Regions from separate parts of the Homo sapiens genome. Here all the other regions are linked to region 3. The links come from fine-mapping of genetic effects on gene expression. A gene starts in region 3. Each other region holds a variant in brackets. All regions are shown on one strand. Distances are between the middles of the regions.

The links. PIP is the estimated chance that this variant, and not a neighbour inherited with it, causes the effect. A credible set is the group of variants that fine-mapping cannot tell apart.
Region 1: its variant is the best candidate, but not a certain one, in a credible set for the expression of RAB20 in whole blood (TOPMed, PIP 0.72).
Region 2: its variant is the best candidate, but not a certain one, in a credible set for the expression of RAB20 in whole blood (TOPMed, PIP 0.67).
Region 4: its variant is the best candidate, but not a certain one, in a credible set for the expression of RAB20 in whole blood (TOPMed, PIP 0.66).

The regions. Positions count from the first base shown.
Region 1 is chr13:110,518,714-110,523,859 of GRCh38, forward strand. It overlaps RAB20 (RAB20, member RAS oncogene family), which reads right to left. Exons shown (of 2, transcript NM_017817.3): 2 at 4,353-5,146. The coding sequence ends at 4,952. Among named protein-coding and RNA genes, the nearest start is that of COL4A2-AS1, 13 kb to the left of the region's middle. RefSeq lists an enhancer at 3,143-3,222. The variant A/G (reference allele first, on the strand shown) is at 2,920.
Region 2 is chr13:110,159,640-110,164,785 of GRCh38, forward strand. It overlaps COL4A1 (collagen type IV alpha 1 chain), which reads right to left. Exons shown (of 52, transcript NM_001845.6): 47 at 3,824-3,922; 48 at 2,591-2,803; 49 at 1,553-1,730. Among named protein-coding and RNA genes, the nearest start is that of LINC03082, 33 kb to the left of the region's middle. The variant T/C (reference allele first, on the strand shown) is at 2,354.
Region 3 is chr13:110,559,355-110,564,500 of GRCh38, forward strand. RAB20 (RAB20, member RAS oncogene family) reads right to left here and starts at 2,368. Exons shown (of 2, transcript NM_017817.3): 1 at 1,994-2,368. The coding sequence starts at 2,165. RefSeq lists silencers at 1,928-1,987, 1,967-2,156, 2,048-2,497.
Region 4 is chr13:110,531,263-110,536,408 of GRCh38, forward strand. The region is part of intron 1 of RAB20 (RAB20, member RAS oncogene family); the gene reads right to left. Among named protein-coding and RNA genes, the nearest start is that of COL4A2-AS1, 26 kb to the left of the region's middle. RefSeq lists enhancers at 1-112, 2,934-3,716. The variant A/G (reference allele first, on the strand shown) is at 3,005.

The DNA of each region.
Region 1 (5,146 bases), 41 kb before region 3:
GGTGGGGCTGGGAGCCAAGGCCTGGGCGTGTCTCACTCCGGCCACTGACACCCTGACCCAGGAGGCACCTTCTCGGGCCTTGGGTCCACATATCCTCCAGCAAGGTGCCCTCCAGATCCGATACCTGAGGGCTGGGCCAGTGGCTTCAAGGCAAACACAAAGTGAAGGGGAGGGACACAGAGCTTCATAACCACGCAAGGACGCTTGCTCTGAAGGCGTCAGCTCTCCCTGAAGGAGGCAGCCTGGACCACAAGGGAGGACTGGGCCCAAGAGCTTCCAGAGCAGGCACAGAGGAGGCTGAGTGCAGGCGGCACATGTATGTGCAGGGTCTCTGCTGTGCGTGCAGGGTCTTGGCTATGCATGCAGGGTCTCGGCTGTGCACACGTGCAGGGTCTCGGCTGTGCGTGCGTGCAGGGTCTCAGCTGTGCGTGCATGCAGGGTCTCAGCTGTGTGAGCAGGGTCTCAGCTGTGCGTGTGTGCAGGGTCTCGACTGTGTATGCAGGGTCTCAGCTGTGTGAGCAGGGTCTCAGCTGTGCATGTGTGCAGGGTCTCTGCTGTGCGTGCAGGGTCTCTGCTGTGCGTGCAGGGTCTTGGCTATGCATGCAGGGTCTCGGCTGTGCGCACGTGCAGGGTCTCAGCTGTGCGTGCATGCAGGGTCTCAGCTGTGTGAGCAAGGTCTCAGCTGTGCGTGTGTGCAGGGTCTCAGCTGTGTGAGCAGGGTCTCAGCTGTGCGTCCACCCACCACACCCATCCTCTCTGTCCTGTTTCGACAATGAGGCTCGAAAGATCCAGCTCTGTGAAGTGGGAGGATGGAAGACCCCTGCACACTGTGGAGAAGAGTCTGTGCTTCTAATAAGGGCATGTAAGAGGACGAGGGCACCGGCCACTCTGCCTGGCCACAGAAGGGAAGATACGACCTGGACTCCACCAACCAGGGCTGGGAGGATCTGTGCCTTTGAAATCCTCCAAACACCTGGAGGCCACACCACGGCACTCCCACCAGGGTCTCTGGGGCCCGGGTCCCACTCTTCTTCCTTCTTCAGAGGTTTGTGGTCATTGCTCAGGAGGGACTCAGCCTGGTTAGAGTCTCCCAGGAGCACGGAGTGAAGGCCGAGCTCAGAGCCATTGCCCCTTCTCTCTGGAAGACAGGCACCATCTCCATGTCTCATGGGGTCTGTCTCATGGGCCTTGAGCAGCAGCTCACCTCTGCCGGAGGGATCCATGTGCTGGGAGCACCCGTGTGCTATGGGGATCCGTGTGCTAGGGGGACCCGTGTGCTGGAGGGACCCGTATACTAGGGAGATCTGTGTGCTGGGGGAGGGGGAACCCGTGTGCTGGTGGTATCCGTGTGCTGGGGGGATCCGTGTGCTGGGGGGGAGCCGTGTGCTGGAGGGACCTGTGTGCTGGAGGGACCTACGTGCTGGGGGGATCCATGTACTGGGGAGACCCGTGTGCTGGGGAGATCCGTGTGCTGGGGAGGGAAGCCGTGTGCCGGGGAGGGAACCCGTGTGCTGGGGAGAACCTGTGTGCTGGGGGGACCTATGTGCTGGGGGGATCCATGTGCTGGTGGTATCCATGTACTGGGGGAATCCACGTGCTGGGGAGAGAACCCGTGTGCTGGGGAGGGAACCCGTGTGCTGGGGAGAACCTGGGTGCTGGGGGGACCCATGTGCTGGCGGAACCCGTGTGCTGGGGAGGGAACCCGTGTGCTGGGGAGATCCGTGTGCTGGTGGGGGAGCCCGTGTGCTGGGGGTATCCATGTGCTGGGGGGGGCCCATGTACTGGGGGGCACCCGTGTGCTGGGGTGATCTATGTGCTGGGAACATTCATGTGAGGTTGTTTTCCTGGCACAGCAGGGCTGTTTAAACCAGGAAGTTGGGTCCAGAAATGGCAACGTCATACTCTTTAAGAAACTAGGCCTGGGAGCCTGGGGAAGGGGACATTCTGACTGACAGCACCCAGATTACCACATACCCAACCCCAGGACTCCCTGACACCACTGCCAGGCACGAGGCTTTAAGGGCACTAGGAAATACCTGGTTATGAGGTGTCATTGAGGAAAGGGTTCTCATCTGCATGGGGACATGGACAGCTGGAAAGTGCAGAAGGGAGCTCCAAGACCACACACAGCCATGAACCCTGGACCGTCACTTGCTCATCTCCTCCCTGGAGTGGCCGCTTTGTACAAAGGAAAGACGGATGCTCGAGGTCACGAGCTCAAACCCACACCCAGTGGGGAAATCTGCGCCAACAGCTGAGTTGCCCAACCGAGGGATTTCAAGCTTTCCAAGAACTGACGTGGTTTCTGGAAGGAAACAGAGGCCACATGAGATGAGGGTGGGGGAGTAGGACCCAAGACCAGGCTCCCCAGCGAGGAGCCAGGCTGGTATCCAAGGTCCACTTGGAATGCAGCCCAGGACACAGGGTGCCAGGGGGCCTGTGGCGGCACTGTCATTGAAACTGTCCCAATAGCTCAGCTCCAGGAAGGGCCGTGGAGAGTGCTCAGTGAGATGTGCTGAATTAATGAGCCCCTCATGCCCTTACAAAAGCACTTGTAAGGGCAGCTGGAAGTTGCTAGCATAGGAGAGACTGCAGCGCCGACTGCCCAGAGGAACTCATTTAAAAGGAGCCCACAGGGATGCTTATTTTTAGGACAACACATATAGGATGAAATGCTTAAACAGAGTTGATGGAGAATGTGCCACCCATGGGCACCATCCCCGGAGCACGCGGCCACTCGAGGAAACAAGCTGTTGGGTGCCCGGAGCAGATGGGAAATCGAATCCAAGACTGTTCAGGAAGAACGGGCCTCAGGCATTCATACAGCCCTCCCTGCCTTCAAGCACCAACTGCAAAAACAGTGCCATATGATACTTTCTCTCCCTTCACAGCCTTCAAAGAAAGACTCTGGCCAGGGCC[A/G]GAGCTCATGCTTATGATCCCCGCACTTTGGGAGGCTGAGGCAGGAGGATTGCGTGAGCCCAGGAGTTCCAGACCAGCCTGGGAAACACAGCAAGACCTCATCTCTACAAAAAATAAAAATAAAAAATTAGCTAGGCATACTGACACACCCCTGTAGTCCCAGCTACTCGGGTGACTGAGGTGGGTGGATCACTTGTGTTCAGGAGTTCGAGGCTGCAGTGAGTGAGCTGAGATTGTGCTACTGCACTCCAGCCTGGGCAACAGAGTGAGACTCTGTCTCAAAAAAAAAAAAAAAAAAGATTCCAAGGTCTCTTTGATTAGCCTATTTCCTAGATGGGTCACTAGCAAAGATACACATTATAGAAAATAAATATAACTTCTGTCCCTACAGTGGTATATTCAACCAAGTCAATAAAAAGTCACGAGTCAGGCTGATTTGCGTTCACTTCTCAATGGGCTGCTGTTGCGAAACTGAAGTTTTAAACTCCGAAACCACATCTCAGGGGAGCTGAGGACCTGCAATCGCAGGGGTTGCCTCAGTGCTTCCTCCTGGGGTTCAAGCTCCCTTCCTTGCCTGAAAGCACTCACTCCACAGGAGCGGAGAAGTTAGGCCTGCAGCAGCCCAGAAACCGGAGAGCACAGGCCTTCAGCAAATTATGAACAGCTCCCCAGAAAACAGAGCACCCTGTAATCCCAGCATGTTGGGAGGCTGAGTAGGGAGGATTGCTTGAGTTCAAGGGTTTGAGACCAGCCTGGGCAACATGGCAAAACCCCAACTCTACCAAAAAAAAAAAAATTATTGGGGCATGGTGGCACATGCCTGTAATCCCAGCATGTTGGGAGGCTGAGTCGGGAGGATTGCTTGAACCCGGAGGTACAGTCTGCAGTGAGCTAAGATCACGCCACTGCACTCCAACCTGGTGACAGAGCAAGACCCTATCACAAAAAAAAAAAAAAAAAAGAAAGAAAACAGCACTTATGAAACCCACTGCCCAGTGCCATCTGCCCCACATTGCCTCCCAACAAACAGCCCCGACCCCAGCCTGCTTTCGTTCAGTCACATTTCTGGGAAAACAAATCTGCTGTCTCCTGGCACCTCTGTCTGACATCTTCCAATAAAGCAGCCACCCCACGGCCAGCAGCAGCAGACCCGAAGGGGGTTTCTGACTCAGAGACCTGGGTGCTCAGATGCCCCAGACTTCAGCAGAACCAGAGCTTTAAGCTTTGCTACTATTATTGGAATTCAAGTCATCAAGAAAACTAGACAGATGGGCCAATCTAAATATTCTGCAATTGGTAAGGATTTCACAGAGCTTCCGCACAAAGAGAGACGTATCTCAAGTTCACAGCCATCTCCCCAGCGCCCCCCACCCTACCCCACAGAGAGTCCCTGGGACTGGGGGTGCAAATGAAGTCAGTTCAGTCTCAATACCTAAGTTGTTCCAAAAATCCTCTTTAATAATACATGTAGCCAACATTGCTGCAATCAGTATAAAAACAAAGTTATTCCTGATTTTGTATAAATGAACACGTCGAGAGTCAGGATTATAAAGCATCAAGATACAAGTACCAAGTGGGAGGACCAAAGACAACTCACAGTGAAGAGAAACGCTTGAGAACAAGAAATGTCAGAGTTGTAGGACGTGGTAACAACCCAGGGTGCTGAAACGGTCAGAGGTGCAGGTGCAGACGCAGGCTTCTGCCTCTGCAAGGGCAAGGGGGCCGTTGGTGGCTGGCTGCAAAGGACCAGTGCCAGGCAGCGGGGCAGAGAGCACCAGGGGTCTCGACTCTGCAGATTGGGCTTTGCAGAGGATTCCTGTTTCCCACCTCCCCACCCCTCTGACAGAGACTGAGGAGACCACACACGTTGACCTCCTCTTCATAGCCAGCCATCATTTCCACTCCAACATTCTGCTGCGGGTGTCATTCTGGAAAATAATTCCTTGCTGTTCCTTGCTCCTTTCAGATCACAGCTTGCCTGGTCAGACCCCTTCCCAACATGCACAGTCTGAGTCCAGGAGGCCCTCGAAAGTCAGGCACAACACCCAGATCTGGTCCTCTTGGGTGGCTTATGACTGGATATATCCACTGTGTGTGACGGCCTCTCAGCTCTCTGCTGTAAGATCATTGGCACCACCAGGTCAAAGAGGGTCTCAAACAGGAGGTCCACATTGTAGCCGGTCTTGGCGCTGGTCTCAAAGCACATTTGCTCAGCGGCCGGCACATC
Region 2 (5,146 bases), 400 kb before region 3:
TATTTTCACACCCATGTTCATAGCAGCATTGTTCACAATAGCTGAGGTGTGGACAAAACCTAAGTGTCCAGTGACAGAGGAATGGAGAAACAAAACGTGGCACCTATGCACAATGAAATATTATTTGGCCCTAAGTAGGAAAGAAATCCTATCACATGCTATAATATAGATGAACCCTGAGGACATTATGCTGAGTGAAACAGGCCAGTGACAAAAGGAAAAATACTGTATGATTCCACTTACATGAGGTGTCTACGGGGGTCAAATTCACAGGGACAGAAAGTAGAATGGGGGGTCACCAGAGGCTGGCAGGAGGGATGTGGAGTCAGTGTTTAACAGGGACAGAGTTTGAGTTTGGGAAAATAAAAAAGTTCAGGAGACGGATGGCGGTGATGGTAAAACAACACTGCAAATGTACTTAATGCCACTACACTGTGCACTGAAAAATTATTAAGATGGTAAATGTTATGTTATGTCCATTTTACCAAAATTAAAAATAACTTTTAAAAAAATTCATAGGGGGCCGGGCGCGGTGGCTCACGCCTGTAATCCCAGCACTTTGGGAGGCCGAGGCGGGTGGATCATGAGGTCAGGAGATCGAGACCATCCTGGCTAACAAGGTGAAACCCCGTCTCTACTAAAAATACAAAAAATTAGCCGGGCGCGGTGGCGGGCGCCTGTAGTCCCAGCTACTCGGGAGGCTGAGGCAGGAGAATGGCGTGAACCCCGGGAAGCGGAGCTTGCAGTGAGCCGAGATTGCGCCACTGCAGTCCGCAGTCCGGCCTGGGTGACAGAGCGAGACTCCGTCTCAAAAAAAAAAAAAAAAATTCATAGGGGCAGGGATGATTCAGAAAACAATGTCTTAAAAGGCTCCTTGGGGAAGCTGTTACTTTTTAAAAAGAAAGATTGAGCAACACTGTTCCAACGCTTGCTGAAGAATCGAGTGGCATCACCTTGCTCACAGGAGGAAAGGCAACCACCACAGTGAGTCAGGCAAAATATAAATTATCTCTGCAAGCCTGGCATTATCTCACCATGGTTTTGCACCACAATTTTAAAAGAGAATAGCTGACTCTTTTTTCTTTTTGAGACAGGTTCTCACTCTGTTGCTCAGGCAGGAGTGCAGTGGTGTGGTCTCAGTTCACTACAGCCTCAACATCCCAGGCTTAAGTGATCCTCCCACCTCAGCCTCCCTCGTAGCTGGGACCACAGGCTCACACCACCACGCCCAGCTAACTTTTGTATTTTTTGTGGAGATGAAGTCTCGTCATCTTGCCCAGGCTGGTCTTGAACTCCTGAGCTCAAGCAACCCTCTCGCCTCGGCTTCCCAAAGTGTTGGGATTACGGGCATGAGCCACTGTGCCCAGCCAACTGACTTTTATGTCAAATAATTTTTATGGTAGATTTCCATTACAAAACTCGAATATCACAAATAATAAGCTAAATGGCAATGGATTCAACGTTTTGGAGAAAAATAGAAAACATATGCTTGTCCAGACTAGAGACTTTTCCTCTTCAATTTTGCATTTGTTCCTACAGATGCTCGACTCACCTACTAATAAATGGTCTTATGTTTTCCCCCGTGATGGGTGCCATTGACATGGGCATGGGCTCAGGGGTGGACAGCCAGTACGAGTAGTCATTTCGTGATGCAAAGTTGCACACGTTGTTAATATTGCAGAACAGGAAGGGCATTGTGCTGAACTTGCGCAGGCAGCTGCCGGCCGTGCCTAGACAAGGAAGAAGACAATGTGAGATGTTTCCTTTATAATTCACAATCTATCTCTATGTAAAGTGGATTTCAGCTGGACAACAAGCAAAAACATATAATCAACATAATCACTGAAATGGAAATGTATAAAGGATTATGTAGGACATTTTTGATGAAAGGAAACAAAACCAGTTTACCAGCACAAAGAAACCTTTTCCTAAAGCTGAATTCTAGAAGGAACTTAACACATGGTTCGTTATACGATGGATAGTAACAAATTGGGCAATGTCTTTCACAACAGTTTTGCAGAAAATGCAGATGCTCTTTCTATAGCAGCTTGCTGATTCTAACCCTGATAAAAGTTAAAGGCAGAGAAAATTAAAACACAGTTTGGTGGAGGATATCTGGGTCAGATTAAGATAATGAGGACAGATATGTAGCTTTCTGCTGATCTAAACTAGAGGAGCAGAGCTCAGCAGCTGTAGAGAATTTCAGACAGGATAACATGGACCTTTTTTTTTACAAAGAGCAATGGTTAAGCCGCATCAATGCAAATTGTTAAGTGCACTCCAGGAATCTTGATCCTACTTGATAATTTGAAGATGAGATCTAAAGTTTTATTAATTTAAAGATTTTCGAAGA[T/C]TCAGTCTCCACATTTCTTGGCTTGCCATTAGTAATACAGCAGCTGTTGAACCGATTATTTGTAATCAATGGAGGGAAATGGGGCCGGGCTGCTTTTTCACTGGCTACCGCCCTCATGGCGCAGTGTTTCACTCGCTACTGCCCTCACTGCAGCAGCAGAGGCGAGTCCAGCACTGCACACCGAAGGCACTCAACACACCTACACTGAATGAATGCATGGATCTGCAGGCTTCTTACCCAAGTCCTGGCCATGGGCCCGTTCATTGCCTTGCACGTAGAGCAAAGAGTACCCGTGGTAAAGAATTTTGGTCCCAGAAGGACACTGTGGGTCATCTATTGTTTGACTATGCCTGGTCACAAGGAAGCCGTGATCAACAGATGGGGTGCCTGGGGGCCCCATGGATCCTGGCAACCCATCGGGGCCTGGTGGACCTGGAAATCCTCTTGGACCTGGAAGATAGGAGACAAATTAGTTTCCCTAATTACAAACACGCTCCCCTAAAGGCTTTCAAAATCATTTTCTCCAAAGAGTTTTTAATATTTTATATTTCCACAAAGTATCCTACCTATTCATGTTACCAAAAAAGTCTAAAAAGAATGCATGGCTAACTAAATACAGCAGCCTACCTCCTTCATGGTGTCTTAACTTTTTCTTTTTACCTGCCACCTCAAGATATTTTTATAAGCACAGTTCTCGGTGCAGAGCAGATGCTTGAACAATTTAGTTCAATGAATATATGACACATATGAAAATGGATATATGAATAAATGAAAATAAATGAATGACGTGACTCTGTGCATGTCATTCACACGGAATCGTGGGGCTCCTGTTGGGGAGGACTATCATAGAATTATTAAACAACCTCATCTTAAGGTGTTTCTTCCTCCATAGCAGCCCAAAGCCTGCGTATGGAAATGGAGCAGTAAGGGACCTCGCAGGCAAGGCCTGCTTCTGTCCCCTCTCTAACTGTGCCACGTGCCAAACTGTGCCCAGGTCTGCTGGGCTGAGCTCTTTGTTCAATTAGTCAGTGGCCTCAGCCTTTTGCATCATAGCCTTCACCGGACACTCGAGTGTGCCTTCTCCTAAGGAAGCAGATCAAGTTCATCCCATGCCTTTGGGCCAATGCTGGCATTATTTTCATTTCTACTTCCCTTGTCCTTTGCTGAAATAGAATTTTCACAGCTGCAGCTCACATCCCACTTAGGAAACCACATGGGCCACCACTATTGGCTGCCTTTCAACAACATCTGGGAAACGTACACTTTGATCAATATCTGTCTCTACACAGAAAAAAGAACACTTCTTCAGCTCTTCTATTTGATTCTATTTCTTCTAAGAAACAGACTTCTTCGGAAATCTGTCAAGTGATATATCCAACTTCATTCTGCTGTTTCCCCATGCCTGGTTCTGCTCCTTCTATCCCAAAGATCCTGGTCAAGGGTAATTACGTTGGAAGTTTCGCAACCTACCAGTAGGCCCGGCAGGTCCCATCTCTCCTTTCTGGCCAGGGGCACCGTCAAACCCAGGAATACCTGGAGGTCCAGGTATACCCACCAATCCTGTAACACCTGAGGCAGAGGAAAAATAATTTATGATCCTGTATGGCAGTAAGCTGTATCTCTTTCTTCCCTTCTTAAATGTCCTTTTCAGTGTTCAAGGAGCCAAGCATAAAGTCTCACTGCAGATGAGAACGTTTTCTCGGACAGCCAGGAGTTGCTTCCCACAAAGTCGAGTACAGACTTTGCAGAAGCAGCTGGATATTCATAAGGGGGTGTGTGTTTGGGCACCTCGTTCTGAGTTCTCCCTGGTTTCTTGCTGTTTGGCAGATTGGTTTGGAAAAGGCAGGTGATGTGGAGGGAATGAGAGACTGGATAACTTTCCCTCTCAGCCATATACTGGGGTCTCAATTTTTAGGCAACAGATATACCAACATGGATAGTTTTTTTGTTTTCATGTACATAGCTTGTTCTTCTTCTTTCTTTCTCTCTCTCTTTTTTTTTTTTTTTTTTTTTTGAGACAGGGTCTCGCTCTGTCACCCAGGCTGGAGTGCAGTGGTGTGACCACCGCTCACTGCAGCCTCGACCTCCCGGGCTCAAGCGATTCTCCTACCTCAGCCTCTCGAGTAGCTGGGACTACAGGTATGCACTACCACACCTGGCTAATTTTATCATTATTATTTTGTAGAGACAGACTCTCCCTATGTTGCCCAGGCTGGTCTTGAACTCCTGGGCTCAAGTGATCCTCCCACCTCAGCCTCCCAAAAAGCCGGCATTACATAGGTGTGACCCAGTGAGCCTGGCTAGCTTATTCTTAAGTATCATTAAATTTTCTTTGATGCTTTCAACTTTAAAATGTTTTCATTCTCCTTTACTTCCCACCCACTCCTTATCAGTAGCTCTTCAAATAGGAGATGTTTCACTCAAATAAGCAGAAGACTATGTTAGGGTTTCAGGAAATAACAGAGAATTGTACAGACAGTGCCAATCAGGCAGCGCTCCTGGGGGCATGGATGGAGAGCACCGATTTTTACCATTCCAGATTGCTACATGCCACCCCCATCTGGAGCGGGAGGCAGGAGGGGGAAAGGTAATGATCTGGTTCTTTGAGCCCATGTTTTTCTAACTGAACACAGATGTGTTGTTATGTGTTCCTCTAGCTTTTCCTGGGTTTTCTTCTGGATTTTTTTTAGGTCCCTTTAAAAATGTCATAGGTTTTGATATGCATTGAAGGGAGGTAAGAAACTCATATTCATATGTGTGTGTATAATCATTACCCAGAAACTTATTTTAGAT
Region 3 (5,146 bases):
AAAGTTTAGGAGCTCAGCAAAAGAAGGAAAAGAACAGGGTCCCCTAAATGTTAAATTCTGAATTTCCAACAATTATAGAAAAGGTATCTGTTCCTACCTCTCTTTTCCCTTCAAGTACCCGGTCAGGCCACAGGCCACCGAGGAGGCAGGCAAGGGTGCCCTGTGTCCCTGCCAACTCTGGGCAAGGGCCGCCTGAGTGTGTACACAGGAAGTCAGGAATGTGGAGAAGGGGCCTGGCCACTCTCTGTTCTGAGGAGCTCTAGTAATTCACCCTTAGGATCTTTCGAACAAGCAGCAGCAGCCTCGGATGCCAGGAAATGAGCTGCTGCCCCCCAGTAACGCTTCAAGACATCTGGGGCGTCACATCAGCACAACTGCAAAATCTCTGGTGATCAGGATTCCGGCTGCATCACGTCCTTGGTGCTGAAGAAGCAAGAGGCCAGTGGAAACGAAACTGCTGCTTCATTCCCTCCGATGCAGGGGCCGTTCCAGCACTGCAGGGCAGCTCTTGTTCCAGAAACACACCGTGTGTTAAGAGTCTGCCTCCAACGGTGGCCACTACAGGGGTTTCGGTTAGGGTCCCCCAATAACACTCCTGCATTAACCTTGCTACTTGTAAACCAAGGGCAGCAGTAAATCCCAGCCAACCAGCAAAAGCAGCAGAGGGGCAAAGCTTTGTACAAAACCAAATTGGGTTCAATTTGACTTTGTACAGAAGCAAATTGGGTTCGTGAATTGGGTTCGATTTGACTTCTAGAGCGTGTGTTCCATCGTTACCAAATGCTCAGTGTGAGGGAGTCAGCTCAGTAAACCTCATCCTGCAGCCTGAGGCAGAAGACAGAGTTGGAGCAAAGATCAGGGAAATGCACCTCTTTACCTGGGGGACATTGTTTTCACAAGATGATTGCCAATAAATTAGTCACGATGTTAACTGGGATAATAATAAAAAAGCATCAAAGAAGGCAAAAGGGAGGGGGAGAACTGGAAGTACCTCTGTGAGCTTCGTTAATTCAGTTTTAAAGAGAGAATTCATTATCATCTTGTTTATTCAGCATACTGATACACCCAAGATGGCAATTTAAGAATTCTGGACGGGGCCTTTGGGTATATGACTTTTTAAGATGCTAACATAAAAGAAGTCAGAACTTTCAGAGTTTCAGGCTTCTAAAAACTCACACTCATTGAAAATGTGTCACACTATTTCCAGTTTCTTCATTCACTTACAATATCTTATTCTTTTGTAAGGAGAAGGAAATATATTCCATTGCAATGCTACAATCACCAGTGTTATTTTCCAAAGTTAAACAGAAAGCCTGAATTGAGATCCTCTAAGTTGTACTTTTGAAAAGTCACAAATACTACACAATAAAAATAACTCATTACCTATCTTAAAAATGCTTCCACCGGAAGTCACTCCAACCCAAACCCATATGACGTATCTGAGCCAAGATCAAGCAGAAGATTAACTGTAAAAGGCAGATATGCTCCGGGCTAAGAGGTCCGGAGGCTCCAGTTTTATTTCCTCTCTCCTGACTAAACCCAACAGGGGGGAACACTCTGTGCCTCATTTTACTTTTTCTTAGAAAGGGGCTAATAACACCAGCTCTGCTCACCCCTCAAGTGAATCTCAAAGGATATCATGTTCCTACGGGTACGTGAAAACTGAAAATACCTAACAAAGCAGCCACAGAGGAGCGTCTCTGGTTCCCAGGGCGGCAGAGCAGGAACGCGGGGCTCGGGAGCAAAGGCAGCTTAGGTACACAAATGACCAGCGGGTTCTCTGCAACTTGGGTTGTCCCTGAGGTCACTGAGTGGCTGAGAGGCAGCGCTCAGCCCAACCAGCAAGGGAGGACGAGTGGGAAACCCCGAGAAGGAGGCATTTGCTGTCCGAGGCCGGGACCCTGTGCGCGGCCGGGTGCCCTGCTGGAAGCCCCGCGCCCCCCGTCCCCGGCGGAGCCCCAGGGCGGTGTGGCTCATGCGGCGCCGGCCTCACCTGCGGTGTCCCAGATGGAGATGTTGTAGGAGCGCCACTGCTTCAGGTAGAAGGCGCCGCCCACCGTGCTGACCGTGTCCGGGAAGCGCCGCTCCATATACCGCTGCAGCAGCGACGTCTTCCCCACGTTCATGTCCCCCAGGAGCACGATCTTGCTGTCGGGCTTCCTCATCTTCCCGTAAGAACCCCCAGCGCCCCCGCGCCCTCTCCCCGAGGCTGGCCGGCTCGTGCGCCCTGGGCGCAGCTGGAGGAGCGGACCCCGGACTCGCCGGGACCCGGATTCTCGTGAACGCTCCGGGACCTTCGCCTCCGGACGCCCGGGAGCTCAAGAGAGGAAGCGCGTGTGCGCGCCCGGGAAGGAGCTGGGTGCAGAGCACGGAGCCCACGTCGGGGGCCCGGACCGCGGCGGCCTCGCCTCGCCCCGCCCCCGCCCCCGCCCCCGGGCCCTTTCACCGCCGCGGCCCCGCCCTATCCTCCTCCGCCCACCGCCCCCGTCCCGCCCCTGCTGGACCTCGCCGTTTCGCAAGCATCCGAGTTCTCCAGCCGAGGCTCGGGACTGCTGCAGGGTGGAAAATGAAAGTTCTGAGAGCACCTTCCGCCCCTCCGCTTCTGCACAGCCGGGGCTGCGGTGCGAGGAGCTTGGCCGCGGGGCCCGAACGAGGCGAAGGGGCCGGGGCCCTTGGGGAACCCCCTTCTCTCTTCCACTCTCCCTTAGGTAAAACCCGTGTTCCTCTCACGCTCGACCCAGCGCCTTTCCAGCTGCGGTCGATTTGCTTCTCCGCGTGTAAGTACAGCCACCCTCAAGGTCATTGAAAAAGTTTGCTTTAAATGAGCGTCTGCGGAACTCGTCCTGAGGCTCTCACTGTTACAGATTAGAGATGGGGGCGCTTTCTAGTGGAGGATTTTGCTTTTGCTCTTCTACTTTTGCAAGAAGCTTTTTGTCCTGAAAAGTGGACAGTCATCTCCATTTATAGCTTGGAATGAAAATTTGACTATGGAAGTTGCAGTCGCTACTTGAGAAATATTTCCTCCTTCTTTTTTTTTTTTTTTTTTTATTTTTGACACGGAGTTTTGCTGTTGTTGCCCAAGCTGGAGAGCAGTGCGCGATCTCGGCTCACTGCAACCTCCGCCTTCCGGTTTCAAGCGATTCTCCTGCCTCAGCCTCCCGAGTAGGCGGGATTACAGGTATGTGCCACCATGCCCGGCTAATTTTTGTATTTTTAGTAGACACGGGGTTTCACCATGTTGGCCAGGCTGGTCTCGAACTCCTGACCTCGTGATCCACCCGCTTCGGCCTCCCAGGTCCTCCTTCCGTTTTAAAGGATAAACCTTGAAATGCTTTTAAAATATGCAGCGTGTAGAATTTGGTTAGTTGGTTGGTTGGGGTTTTTTAGAGAAAATGAGAGGTAGAATGGACTCTAAGTTAAACCCTGGGGGACAGTGTCACTCTGGCCGCTGGCCTGGCTGGGAAAGGCGATGAGACCCTGAGCAGGTTAAAACCCGTGTCCTGAAGGTGTCCTGTAAAGGGAAATAGGCCCGTTGCCTCCTTCGTAGGTGCCCTGAGACTCCGACAAGGCAGGAATGCCAAGGTATTTCGTACCTGCTCAGCCCTGGCATGTCAGGTTGCTGAGACCGAGCAGTGTGGGGCTGAGGTGGAAGCGGACCTTCTGGGGCGTGGAAAGCGCACCAGGAGACCCCGGCTCCTTCTCAGCCAGCACTGCCTCATCCTCAGAACAAATTTAAGTCAATTCAGCATTTATTCAATGCCTGTTGCATGCAAGTGACAACCTAAATAACAGAGAGGATCTCTAAAAGAAACAGATATTTATTTTGCAATAGAGCTTTGCAGTAGAAATATGCATGCCATGGTAAACTTGTGCATATTCAGAGAGGCAAGGAAAGCAAAGGCTTTAAAAAAAATGAGGCGGATTGCACAATTGTTTGAAAATAATTATCTGTGGCTACAAAGATCCATAACGAAGGCGATGCCAGTTCAAAGTAGGACAGCCAGTGGCTGGGCCATGTCCTTGCAGGACTAGTTTTTTGTGGGAGATTGCAGTGGCCTTTGTGCAAGGTTGCGGTTTTTCCAGAGAGTCCTTTTTGTTATCAGGCATGCACGCGCAAGAACCCTCTCTTCATGGCCTTCCCCGGCTCTGTTTGTCAGGGTTTTCTTAACATTAGCGGCTCCATTTCGATTCTGACAATTTTCACACAAGCTACAGTGCCTGGCCTGGGACGACACAAACATGAGTCAGGTTTGGTGCCTGTTGGCCAGGCGCAGTGGCACACACCTGTAATCCCACCACTCTGAGAGGCCGAGGCAGATGGATCCTTTGAGCCCAGGAGTTCAAGATTAGCCTGGCAACATAGGGAGACCCCCGTCTCTATGAAAATTACAGAAAAAATTTGCCATGCATGGTGGTGTGCACCTGTAGTCCTAGTCCAAAGTTGCTTTGACTATTCTGGAACATTTACACTTCCATATGAATTCTGGAATCAATGTATCTAACCTCAGGAAACACATTAATGACATATATAGTTAAATTTAGGAAGAGTGGATATCTTTATAATATTAAAATGTCCCATTTATGAACATGGTATACCTCTCCATTTATTCAGCGGGTGTTCAAGGCTCACCTAGAATTTTTACACTTCTTTCTACTTTTTTACCATCAGGAAGTTTAATCACTTCCTGGAGCATGCTTTTTGATTCTCCAAATTTTACCCCCTGTCTGCTTCTCTCACCTGAGCTCTTTGTCCATTTCTTCATCCACCTACTAAGCCTTTCTACATGGATGTCTCAATATGGCAACCCACCACATCGTTCATCTGCCCTTCTGTAAATGCAGAGTCATTCATTCTTTCACCTTCTTTATAACCATATCCAATTCATCACCAAGCCCAATGGATTTTCCCTTCTAAATAAATCCCTCTAACATCTTCTCTCTCTTTTCCCACAGACGCCCACTTGTCTGGAACCTTCTTACACCTAAATAGTTAGAATCCACTCCTATTTGGTCTCCTTAACTCCAAGCTCCTGCCGTCCCAATCACTGTCAGACTAACCTTTCATAACCACTGCTTTCTCTACCCAGAGACCTGCCACGGCTCCCTACTTTCTATCTCCACAAGTCCAAATCCTGCCCCCCGCCAC
Region 4 (5,146 bases), 28 kb before region 3:
AGGGCCCCTTTGAGGTGGGCTGCTGGGCAGGAGAAAAGCCTGCCTCCACCCTGTGATCCCACAGAGCACAGGCATTTGCAGAATGCAGCCACCTTCCCAGGAGCTCCAAATTTTACGCAGAGAACTATCCTGGAAGTGCCGGCTAATTCGCTGGGCAGGGACTGCAGAGCGTTCTGGTAAACAGCCCCCACTCTAGAGACAGACTACATTCAAATCCCCACCGTGTGACCTTGGGCAAGTCACTTAGACATGCGGTACCTCAGTTTCCCCGTCACTAAAATGTGGGTTACACCTGCCAAAGGGTGGCTGAGAAAGCAGAATCTGCACACAGGTGAACTGGCTGGAGCTGCACCCAGCACATTAGGCCCTGTAATAGAAGTGCTTGTTCCATAAATCGTGAGATTCCTCCCAAACCTAAGGATGGATGCCACCGTCCCAGGGCTGCCCATGTCCCGGGTCTCATCATCCCTCCATTTACACACCACCTCCTGGGGCCGACTGGGCGCTTTTGCAGTGGACCAATCTTCTACGTTTCTTATTCTCAGATGATGACCTTCTCCCTGGTCCTGGGGGTGCTCCGGATGTTGCCAGATCAGTGGAGCTGACATGGCCCAGGGTTCAGGCAGAAGGGGAAGGGAAGTCAGCACCCACAGTAATCCTGATTCACTGTTGCGGAACCAAAAACTGCCCAAGTGCTTTCCATTTCACTCTTCAGCCTTCCCAAAGCCAAACACAGCCAGGCTTCTACCCCAAGTGTTGTGTCGTTTTCACTATTGGTTTAAATAAGAGTGGGTTGAGATAGCCATCAGAAGCCACGGACACCCTTGGCTCACATCTTAAGCATGGGGTGGGGAGACTTAAAAAATACTGATGCTCAGACCCTGACCCAGCTGCCAGGGCAAGAGTGGGGCTGGCATTTGTATCAGCTTTAAAAGCGCCCCAGGTGAATACCAGGTGCACCAGGAGTGAAAATCAGCAATTTACCCAGTGAAAGTGGGAAATAAAAGGGCAGCTATTGAAATGTAAGAATTAGAAAGCTTGGTATTTCAATTCATTGAAAAGTGAGCCCTACCAGGAAATGCAAACACTGAGACAACAGGAACTTTCATTATTTATTTATTTACTTTTTCTTGAGACAGAGTCTTGCTCTGTTGCCCAGGCTGGAGTGCAGTGATGCAATCTCAGCTCACTGCAAACTCCACGTCCAGGGTTCAAGCAATTCTCCTGCCTAAGCCTCCCTAGTAGCTGGGATTACAGGCACACACCACCAAGCCCAGCTAATTTTTGTACTATTAGTAGGGACAGGGTTTCACCATGTTGGCCAGGCTGGTCTCAAACTCCTGACCTCAAGTGATCCACCCACCTTGGACTCCCAAAATGCTGGGATTACAGGCGCGAGGCACCACGCCCAGCCTATTTAATTATTATTTTTTTGAGACAGAGTCTTGCTCTGTCACCCAGGCTGAAGTGCAGTGGTACGATCATGGCTCAATGCAGCCTCCATCTTCTGGGCTTAAGTGTTCCTCCCAACTCAGCCTCCCGAGTAGCTGGGACCACAGGTGCATACCACTACACCCAGCTAATTTCTTTTATGTTTGTGTAGAGATGGGGACTTACTATGCTACCCAGGCTGGTCTTGAACTCCTGGGTTCATGCTATATTCCCAACTTGGCCTCCCAAAGTGCTGGGGTCACAGGCATGAGCCACTGTGCCCAGCGGAGAACAGAAACTTTTAAGATGAGTTCTCTGCCTTGCCAGATCGGACAGCCCCCTGGCAGGGAGCTCACAAAACATCGATGTGACAACCTGAGGAAAGGAAAAGTGCATATTCCCAGACCAGAGATGGGAGCAAAATAAGCAACTCCAGCAATGGCACCAGCAGCAGCGCAGCCTAGAGGAGCTGTGACACACTTCCCATCAGAGATTGTTCAAAAACACCACGACATGCTTTCTCCAGTGTTTGCAGGTTGCATCCACAAATACGAGCCAAAAGGTTATTTTAGTTCTATTTTGTAAAGTTGATGAGTTTTGGCTAAAGTTGAGAGTCATGGGACCATCTCCACAGGCATGATCTACATTCCCTCTAGGTTTGTTTTTTTAAAACCGATAGTGAACTTGGTTAAATAATGGTGCGTGGAGGCCAGGCACAGTGGTTCATACCTGTAATCCTAGCACTTCAGAAGGCTGATGTGGGAGGATCCCTTGAGCCCCTGAGTTTGAGACCAGCCTGGGTGACACAGTGAGTCCCTATCTCTACAAAAAAAAATTTAAAAATGAGCTGGGTATGATGGTATGTGCCTGTAGTCCCAGCTACTCTGAGGAGGCTGAGGCAGGAGGATCGCTTAAGCCCAGGAGGTTGGGCTGCAGTGAGCTGGGATACTGCCACTGCACTCTAGCCCGGGCAGCAGAGCAAGACCCTATCTCAAAAAGAGAGAATGGGATGTGGAAGCAACCATCCCCTCAGGAGCATTAGAAAAGAATAAATAATTGACTACTATAACCAACACTGTATTCAATTGTTTGTTGATTTTAGTGCAGTAAGGAAGGCCCACAAGAGTCCCTGGGTGCATGAATGGAGCTGGGCTGCCTGGAGCCAGCACAGGGCCTGGCTGGACACACCTGCCCCCACCAGTACGTGGAAAGTGGAGAGCTAGCAGGCAAGGGCCCCACGCAGTGGGCAGGCCCTCCCCCCAGAACCCACATGCACCAAAGCCTCCAGAGAGCCAATGGCTTGCCAGCCTCCACCCACCGTGATGGGGAACTGTATCTGGTCGGGCCCCGGTGCCCAGCAGTTTGGTCCTGCACTAGCCTGGACATGGCTGGGAAGGTGTTTTTTAGGTGGGATCAGCATTTACATCAGTGGATGTGAGAAAGCAGACAGTGCTCTGTGATGTGGTAGGCCTCGTCTAATCAGCTGATGGCCTGAGAAGTAAAGACTGAGCTCTTCCAGACACGAAGGAATTCAGCCCCCAGACAGCAACAAAGCAACCTTGCCTGAGCTCAC[A/G]CACCCTCTGTCAGGTCTGTTTCTCTGGGGAAGCCTGGCTGCCTTATTCACGTGGACTGCTCACTTGCTTCCCTGGGATGGAGGCTGTCTGCAAAGCTGAGGCTCTCCAGAGAGGCCTGTACAGCTCCCCCATTTTCAGGCTGTCCCCTGAGGCCGAGCCCCTACAAAGAGGTGCTGCCACCGTGATGTACGAGTGTGCCGGTCAAGGGTGCCGACCACGCCCCGACCCCTGCCTTGCCCCTCAGCCAAACAAATGTCCAGGGCAGGGGAAGTGGCATGACAGGGGCTTTTCAGAAAACTGCAAGGATCACTTTGACCCAAACTGGTCACTTCTTCATTGAGGGTTCCTTGCCCGGGCAGTTATCTTTCCAAATGCTGATCCAATATGAACACCCTCTACTGTGCACCCCAGGGGGCTTCCTAGCAGGCTTCAAAAGAGTGTGAACTCCACAAAACTGGACCTCATCATAAATGCACAAGTCCTCTCCTGCCAGCTGTTCAGCAACTAAACAGTAAAATAGGAAAAATATGATTTCCAAAACGAAGAGCAGAAGACATATCCAGCAATATTTTTTTGTGGAAACAGAGACAGGGTCTCGCTCTGTCACCCAGGCTGGAGTGCAGTGGCTCAATCATGGCTCACTGCAACCTCATCCTCCTGGGCTCAAGCGATCCTCCCACCTCAGCCTCCCAAGCAGGTGGGACTACAGGTGTGTACCACCACGCCTGGCTAATTTTTTAATTTTTAGTAGAGATGAGGTCTCACTAAGTTGCCCAGCCTGGTCTCAAACTCCTGAGCTCAAGTGATCCCCCCGCTTTGCCCTTCTAAAGTGCTGGGATTACAGGCCTGAGCCACCACGCCCAGCCCAGGAACATCTTTTACTGGCAGAGATGGAGAATGTAGTGAGAAATTTAAATTCAGAATTCTTCCTCATTTTGAAAAGCACACATCTCACCTAGAACTAGCCACATCTCTAAGTCCAAGCCACGTGTGGCCAGTGGCTACCATGCTGGATGGCACAGAGCAGACTCTGCTCAGAGCCGGAGACCCCCAACCCGAACCCACCCTGAACACCAGGTACAGTTCCTGGACCACAGCAGACACTCACGGGCTGCTTGGAACAGGCATGAAGGAGGCGTGAAGTTACAGAAACGAATAAATAACACATGAGGCTAATTCATACAACCACTTCGTGGGTCACGTCTTCATGGATCCTTAAACCACTCTGGGAAGTCTCTGTTTTCCATTTTCGCAGATCTACAAGTCAAGGCTCAGAGACTCTACTGGCGAGATTGGAACCCATTCCCTAGATTCCACCTCTCCTCCTCCTGCCTGCTCTGAGTGCCTCACAGCTTGGGCCCTTCCATTAAATGCCTGTGCAGTGACTAACTTTTCACAGGCAGCCGTGAAGCACCGCACACACCCGGCACGCTGGGCCCAGGCCTTCCACGCAGTGGCTGGCCCAGCGCCTCTGAGCGCCCACTGGACCACACCATGCTCTCAGCCCAGCAGCAGTACCCAAAGCTCCGGCCGCGCAAGGCCTTCCAACACAGAAATGGATTTCATTTCTCTCCTTGAAGGTGAACCAGAGGGCAGGAAACAGCACTTTCTGTTTAAAAATGGAATCATAAATGTATTATTATGGGTTCAAAAATATACATTCAAGTCTTCATCTCTGGCACCCATGAATGTGGCCTCATTTGGAAACAGGGTCTCTGCAGAAGTGATTAGCTAAAATGTGACCACATGGAGTACGGCAGACCCTTAATCACATCTAACTGGTGTCCTTATTAGAGAAGACACCCGGAGACACAGGGGCAAAGACGATGTGAAGGCAGACCCCCGGGGAGGAGACCATGGGGAAACAGAGGCAGAGATGAGAGCCACAGCTCCGCAGGCAAGGACGGCCAGCACCAGTCAGGAGCTGGACAGTGGCGGGAACAGCCTCTCCCTGGAGCCTCCTGAGGTGCACGGCCCTGCCGACGCCAGTTCAGACCCTACCTCCAGGATGGGGAGAGGATGAGCTTCTGCTGTTTGAAGCCCTCCCACTTTGTGGAACTTGGTGACTCAGACCCCTACTAAAGCATGGACTGGGCGGCAGGTGGATGGCCTCCCCCTAGACAGGCACCGAAAGTCAGGAA